2 linked regions of the Homo sapiens genome follow. The protein of the gene in region 1 purifies or fractionates together with the protein of each later gene. This does not show direct contact. Each region holds a gene or a part of one and is shown in the gene's direction. Other genes may lie near its edges.

Region 1 (3,581 bases):
GACCACAAGAAGCAGGAGGGTGAGTGGGAAGAATGAAACAGAGCAGGAAGAAAGCCATTAAGGATATATTAACATTATTGAAGTTGACTTGAGGGCAAAGGGGGCTGAACTCCACTAGCACCTCCTAAGAAGCCTGCAGAACAGCATCCAGAATTGTCCTGTGGATCTGCCGGCTCCTGCCTTGCCTCGGTTGCAGGTTGCCCCTGGGTGCTGTGCCTGCGTGGCTGAGTAGGCTCTTGCTTCAGTGTTAGAGAAAGCCTTGGTGCAGAAAGATGGACAGTGTGTGCTGGGCCAGGGGGTCTGCTACCCACAAGGTGGGCATGCATTTTTGCTGCACTGTCCCCACAGCTGTGTTTGAAATCACAGTGACCCAAGCAGATGGGTCACAGGGCATCAGAGGATCTGCTAAAAACATTTCCATCCAAAATGCTGCCAGAGAATGCTTTGATGCCTAGTGGGCTTCAGCTGTCTAAAGAAGTATCTATAGACCCTCACATGCCAAAGCTCTGCTAAATAGATGAGGCGTTGTGATATCATAGTTTTCTGTTTCAGGTAAAGCACCCTCAGTGATTTCTATCCCTCGCTGTAGGAATCGGTGGTGGAATTATCCATCAGCATGAATTGATCCACGGAAGCTCCTTCTGTGCTGCAGAACTGGGCCACCTTGTTGTGTCTCTGGATGGGCCTGATTGTTCCTGTGGAAGCCATGGGTGCATTGAAGCATACGCCTCTGGAATGGCCTTGCAGAGGGAGGCAAAAAAGCTCCATGATGGTTGGTGTCCCTCTCTCGAGGAATTAAGTAACCAAATAGTAGACAAGTACTTCAAAGTGGAAATTCCAAAGACAGCTGAACACTGAAGCCAGAAGTTTCCCCCTTTTCACTTCTTAGGGAAAGAGCAGGGCTCCCTCGCACTAAAACTGCACAGTCTTCTTGGCTGACCCATATTGCCACTCTTCCTCCCCAGGGGTGGTGGTGGACAGAGGTCTAGAGTTCCAAGACAGCAGGGAAGATTTCCTTCAGTTTTGTTTTCTCAGCCAGTATCACAGGGAGGGTACTTAATACACATTTTAATGAAGAAATAAATGGACAAAACATGTTATGTATATATCACACATACATGCACTGTATGTGTAGTATATCTGTGCTTCATACATAAAAACAGTGTAGATTTTTGGCCCCCAAAACCAATTTGTGAGCATATGCTGAAGGAAAAGAGATGGGGAGTGGAGGCCGAGAGTGCAGGAGAGAAGTGTATAGAGCCCTACAGTAGGGTTCTGAAGAGGTGGGAAGAGATGAGCTGCAAAGCCAGGCAGAGGGTCCACGAGAGGGCATGGCGAGCCGAGATGATGGGTGTATGGGACAGGAAGCAAAAAGGTAGGGGATCACTGCCTGGTGGTGCCCCCTATGAGAGAGGTAAGAAGTATGCTCGTCTGTTGGCAGTGGGGGTAGAAGGACTGGGAAGGTGGTGAAGGTATAGAAAAGCGCAGTCAGAGAGAATGGGTGAGAGCTGTGAGGGCCCAGGGGAGACAGGAGACCACCAGTTGATGTCTAGGTTGCAGTTTGCACAGCTGGGGATTTTTCTCCTTCAGGGTCCAGATATTCTAGCAGATTAGTAGGAGGCAGATTGATCTGAGTTGGTGACGGGCAGAAGACAAGGACTACAGATAACCACAGAAATACCTGCTGCTTACTGAGCATTTACTGTGGCCAGCACTTAACTAAATACTTTATGTCCATGATCTCATTCCGTTCCTCAAATAACCCTGCCAGGGGAGGCACTACTGGTCTCATCTTCTAGGAAGGAGGAATGTGTACAGGTGAGGTGACAGGCATGGGGTCATGCAGCTGGGAGTGGCAGAGCTGGCACTGACCCCAGGCCTGTGTCTGTTCCTCAGCCACTGTGCCTCGCTGCCATAGAACGCGTGGCGCTGGCAGATGGCACAGCATTGTGTCTGGGATGAGTAAGGAAGGAGTGAATGTGGGAGGAGGGTGATAATTTGGAGAAAAGAACACTTCAAAGACTGTCTGCTACTGGAAGTGAGAAGTGAGGGAGCCAGAGGGGTAGGAGGCTGTCGTCAGACTTGAGGTTTTTCCAGGAAGATAGGTTCTGGGTTATGTACAACCAATTAGCAAGAGGGTAGCAAAGGCTTTAGGGGCAGTGTATAGAGATGTTTGTGAACGATAAGCTTTGCAATTGTGAAAAGAAAACACCGTCTTCCCATGTAGGGGCTTGCTTTCCACAGGCCCAGTGGTGAGCTTGGCCTCCCCACAGCTCATTAGTGACTGCTTTTCCTTCTCACTCTGTTCAGAGGACCTGCTCTTGGTGGAAGGGATGTCAGTGCCAAAAGATGAGGCTGTGGGTGCGCTCCATCTCATCCAAGCTGCGAAACTTGGCAATGCGAAGGCCCAGAGCATCCTAAGAACAGGTGAGCATGTGGCTGCAGGTGGCTGTGCTGCAGGGGGTGGCCTCAGATATCATATGGCCCAGCCCGGCCCCAGAAGAGACCCTGCTTCCCTAGGGACAGGTGCTTTGCAGTGTCTGTTCAGAGGTTTCTTTCCTAATTACTCAGAGGTAAAAAGGGAATTGGATTCAAGGTATTTGGCAGCATTGCCTTTTTCAGCAGGTGGTTGGTTTGGTTTGACAACTATAAAAATGCTCCTTTCATTTTACAGGAAATTTAGAGAAATATAGGACAGTTGTAAGAAAAAATATCACTTAGTTTTCCCATTTGGAGGTATCAACTATTAACATTTCCTTCGAGTCTTTCTATTCATTTTTTTGCCTAGTGGAGATCATGTGGTACACCCGGCTTTTTCCACTTGAGGCTGTCACATGATCATTTTCTCATATTAAGAATCAACCGTGAACTGCTTTTAAAACACTGCCTCCCACTGCATGCCGTGGATGTTCTTTAACATTTCTGCTGCTGGCTCTTTTCTGCCTTCCTCTTTGGTATTTTGATTTTGGCTTCTCTCAGAAACTCATTTTAATTTTTGTCTCCCTATAGCTGGAACAGCTTTGGGTCTTGGGGTTGTGAACATCCTCCATACCATGAATCCCTCCCTTGTGATCCTCTCCGGAGTCCTGGCCAGTCACTATATCCACATTGTCAAAGACGTCATTCGCCAGCAGGCCTTGTCCTCCGTGCAGGACGTGGATGTGGTGGTTTCGGATTTGGTTGACCCCGCCCTGCTGGGTGCTGCCAGCATGGTTCTGGACTACACAACACGCAGGATCTACTAGACCTCCAGGAACAGACATGGACCTTCTCTCCAGAGCTCCTGAGTGGAATCAAGTTCTTGTCTTTAGGATGACCGTTTCTTAACAATCAAATCTGGTATTGAACTGCAGGTGACTTTGGCAGAGAAATGTTTTCACTTTTGGTCTCCTCTTCCAGAGTCACCTTTCCCCACTCCTATTTTTGTAGATGCTATTCTTTCTGATGTCTTCTTACTAGGGGTCATTTTAGCTCAAACCCTGTAAGTTACAGTCACAATTTTCTGTGCCAAAGCAGCTACAATAATAGAGAGGAAGCCTTCTTAGAACTCTGCTTACTAATGTATTAATACCACTGAGACC
Region 2 (2,988 bases), on another chromosome or scaffold:
GAGATGTGTAAAATGCAGCAAATTAATTATAATGTAAGTTAAGATTTGCTTTTTGCCAAGTTGCAAAGTTGTATCCACATCAGGTCACTGTAAAAATGTATTATCTTGTAAAACTTATGTAAAAAAAAAAAAAAAAAAAAGGCAAAGATACTAAAAATTTTAAGTCCGACTTTATTTTTCCTACAAGTGTTTAGAAATGCTTCTGGGATTTGCTAATATTATCTGTCCTTGGGAACAGTATTGAAAAAACTGCTTAGTGGTATTACAGCTTTAGCAAACCTACCTCACAGCTGGGATGAGAGGATAAAATACAACTAATTTTGTACCCTATAGTGCCTAGAGCAGTCCAAGTGCTAAATAAATATTTACTGATTAAAACCAAACTATAGCTACTCGGGAGGCTGGAGGAGGATCGCTTGAGCCCAGGAGTTTGAGGCCATTCTGGGCAATATAGCAAGACCCTGTCTCGAAAAAAAAAAAAAAAAGAAAAAACCAAACTAACCAAAACTCTGTAAAAGAGTGCTTTGAGCTCTACAAATACCAAGTATTTATTGTGGTATATTTTTAGAATGTAGCCATACAGTGTAATTATGGGTATCTGTCATGGATCACAATTATTATTCATAGTAAGTCATTGTGATACAGAAGTTTGTTTCTTCACTTCCCCTTAAGAAGCCAACTATAGTAATCATGCAAAGTTGAGGAGTATGTCCTTCAGGGATATAAAAAGAAAAACAAATCTGTTTTTTGAGCTAAAAGAGCACATCCAAACAAGAATTTAACTGGCTAAAATTTAGTAATTACTGTTAAGTAACTATCAAACTTGAAATCTTACAAGATAAATGGTTAAGATGTCTTGAGTATTTGGGATGGGGGCCTGTGAGTCTGATTGAGACATACATTTTACAGAGTAGCAGCACTGGAAAGGGCTAGTCCAACCTCCCAGCCTCTGCTTGGGTCTCCGCTGCCCCAGCCACACACATCCTAGAATTCTTGTAAACATATCTGGCTCTGTGTTAACAGTCACTTGTTATATGTTTTCTAAGAGATTAGTTCTTCCTGTGATTTTTCCAAGTACGCTGAAAGTAGTAGTATGAACTTAAGGAGGCTAGTCAAAGAAACTTGGAGTTATAGGTATTTTTAAAGAATAAATCCTCAATTCCATCATCACTTGGCGGGGAGGGGGCACTTATTAAGCATTTTAGATAATAAAACTGGTTAAGCTTACTCTGGTAGAACAGACAATCAAATCTGGGGATTGCTGAGAACAATAATAAGCTGAAGTATGGCTCACAGAATCCTAACACAAATCATTAAGTCTCTAGTTAGATTTGTTATCCTAAAATTTTTCATAGAATTTTAAAATCTAATTCTGACTTGTATGGTTAAGAAAAGCAGTTAAATATTTTACTACTTATCAAGGGCTTTTAAAATAAATAAATCTGATTGATAGGAAGAAAGGCAAATAAATACCTATGTAGACATTCTATAATAACAAAGAGCCATAGATGATAAAGGAATTAGATTTTAATGTAGAATGGGTGGTTTCTGAAACAAAGGTATGTGGTACTTTGTAGTTATTGATGAGAAGCCAGTAACCAGTAGTGTTTTCCTAGATATATGCCCACCCTCACACAACTTTCTTCATTAACAAACATTAAATATGCATTTGTATCTTATTAAATTATATTGTATAATGCTGAAGGAAAACAAAAAGTGTTCAAATAATCATAACTTCTACATTACAGGTTCTGTTTAGATGCAGAACTAGAGGGGCCAGGGTAAATGTAGATAAAGAGATATATAGCACCATGCTTCTTAATGCTTCATACTTTTGCAAACAGAAAAAAAAAGTTTTACTTTTATTATAAAACTTCATCTATGGTCAAAGTAAACACTGTTACATTTAAATTGCTTTTTAAAAACAATTGCGATCTAAAAAGTCAAAAATCTGAAATTTAATAATATGAGACTTACACTGAATATAATGTTCATTTAGAAGTTGCTGTGGTCCACTTCATTTATAAGGAACAAATATTTTTACAGTACACTATAGCAACAGCAAAAGCCCTCTCTCACCCTGATAGGAATGGGTTTGCTGGGTGTCTAGAAGTTAGATTCCTGCTGAATAGAATTAGCCATCCTTAAAAGATTTTAATCCAATACTGAACTGTTTATAAAATGCTTTCTCTATTGTAATGTACTGTAAGTAGTGAAATTCTGTATATACTGCTATTTTCTGTCTGTTCATTGTTGTGAACTTCTTATGTATATTAGTGAAATAAATTTTCAGCTTTCATGTTGTTTCCTAAACATTCATAAGTATAACTAACTATTAAGAGATTTCTTCCTTTCTTGAGTAACAAATTTGGTGATTATATTCTTTCTGATCCAACCCCAAAAACTAGCTATTCTGAAAAGGCTGATGTTCACTAATGGGAAGAATGAAATGACCCTTCACCTCTTAAGGGAAACAGGCCTCCGCCATTCCCTTTCAAAACTATACTTCTTTTACTTGATACTCAAAACTTCTGCACCAAAATCAGTCAGTATTTTTCCAGAATGCCTTTATTTTCAGTATCATAGAATTTAAATACAGAGTCAAAAGATGATTTATAAAATATAAAACATTTTCTGCTTGGCCGTATTTGAAGACAAGCTGAATACATATCTATGTTCTGAATAAGTCCACTATGGATATATATAGGAAGAGATATACATATATCCATCCACAGATACACACACACATATATATTTCTGCATGTATATATACATAATTCTTTCTATAGTTACAGGAAATACTTCTTCTATAATTCTGATTTTGACTCCCATCCTCCACCATTTACTCATCCACTCATTACCTAAATCTTGGCTTTCTTTCCTATATTGTAAATAATCCATCCAAACTTCTAGCCAGTACTGTCAGGAGGGTTCTTGCTCGAGTGAGCTGTTAATACTATTTTCCACTGACAACTTCTGCACATCGAG

What was found.
Region 2: the proteins of GNE (region 1) and RAB3GAP2 fractionate together in Homo sapiens (co-fractionation; one large-scale study listed by BioGRID). This does not show direct contact.

What each region holds. Positions count from the first base shown.
Region 1 is NC_000009.12:36,217,029-36,220,609, reverse strand, and holds part of GNE (bifunctional UDP-N-acetylglucosamine 2-epimerase/N-acetylmannosamine kinase), read left to right. Parts: intron 1-589; coding exon 590-772; intron 773-2,310; coding exon 2,311-2,427; intron 2,428-3,009; coding exon 3,010-3,245; 3' UTR 3,246-3,581. UniProt on the Homo sapiens protein: Bifunctional enzyme that possesses both UDP-N-acetylglucosamine 2-epimerase and N-acetylmannosamine kinase activities, and serves as the initiator of the biosynthetic pathway leading to the production of N-acetylneuraminic acid (NeuAc), a critical precursor in the synthesis of sialic acids.
Region 2 is NC_000001.11:220,147,604-220,150,591, reverse strand, and holds the end of RAB3GAP2 (rab3 GTPase-activating protein non-catalytic subunit), read left to right. Parts: 3' UTR 1-2,299; downstream 2,300-2,988. Other genes in the region: IARS2 (isoleucine--tRNA ligase, mitochondrial precursor), read right to left, coding at 2,957-2,988. UniProt on the Homo sapiens protein: Regulatory subunit of the Rab3 GTPase-activating (Rab3GAP) complex composed of RAB3GAP1 and RAB3GAP2, which has GTPase-activating protein (GAP) activity towards various Rab3 subfamily members (RAB3A, RAB3B, RAB3C and RAB3D), RAB5A and RAB43, and guanine nucleotide exchange factor (GEF) activity towards RAB18.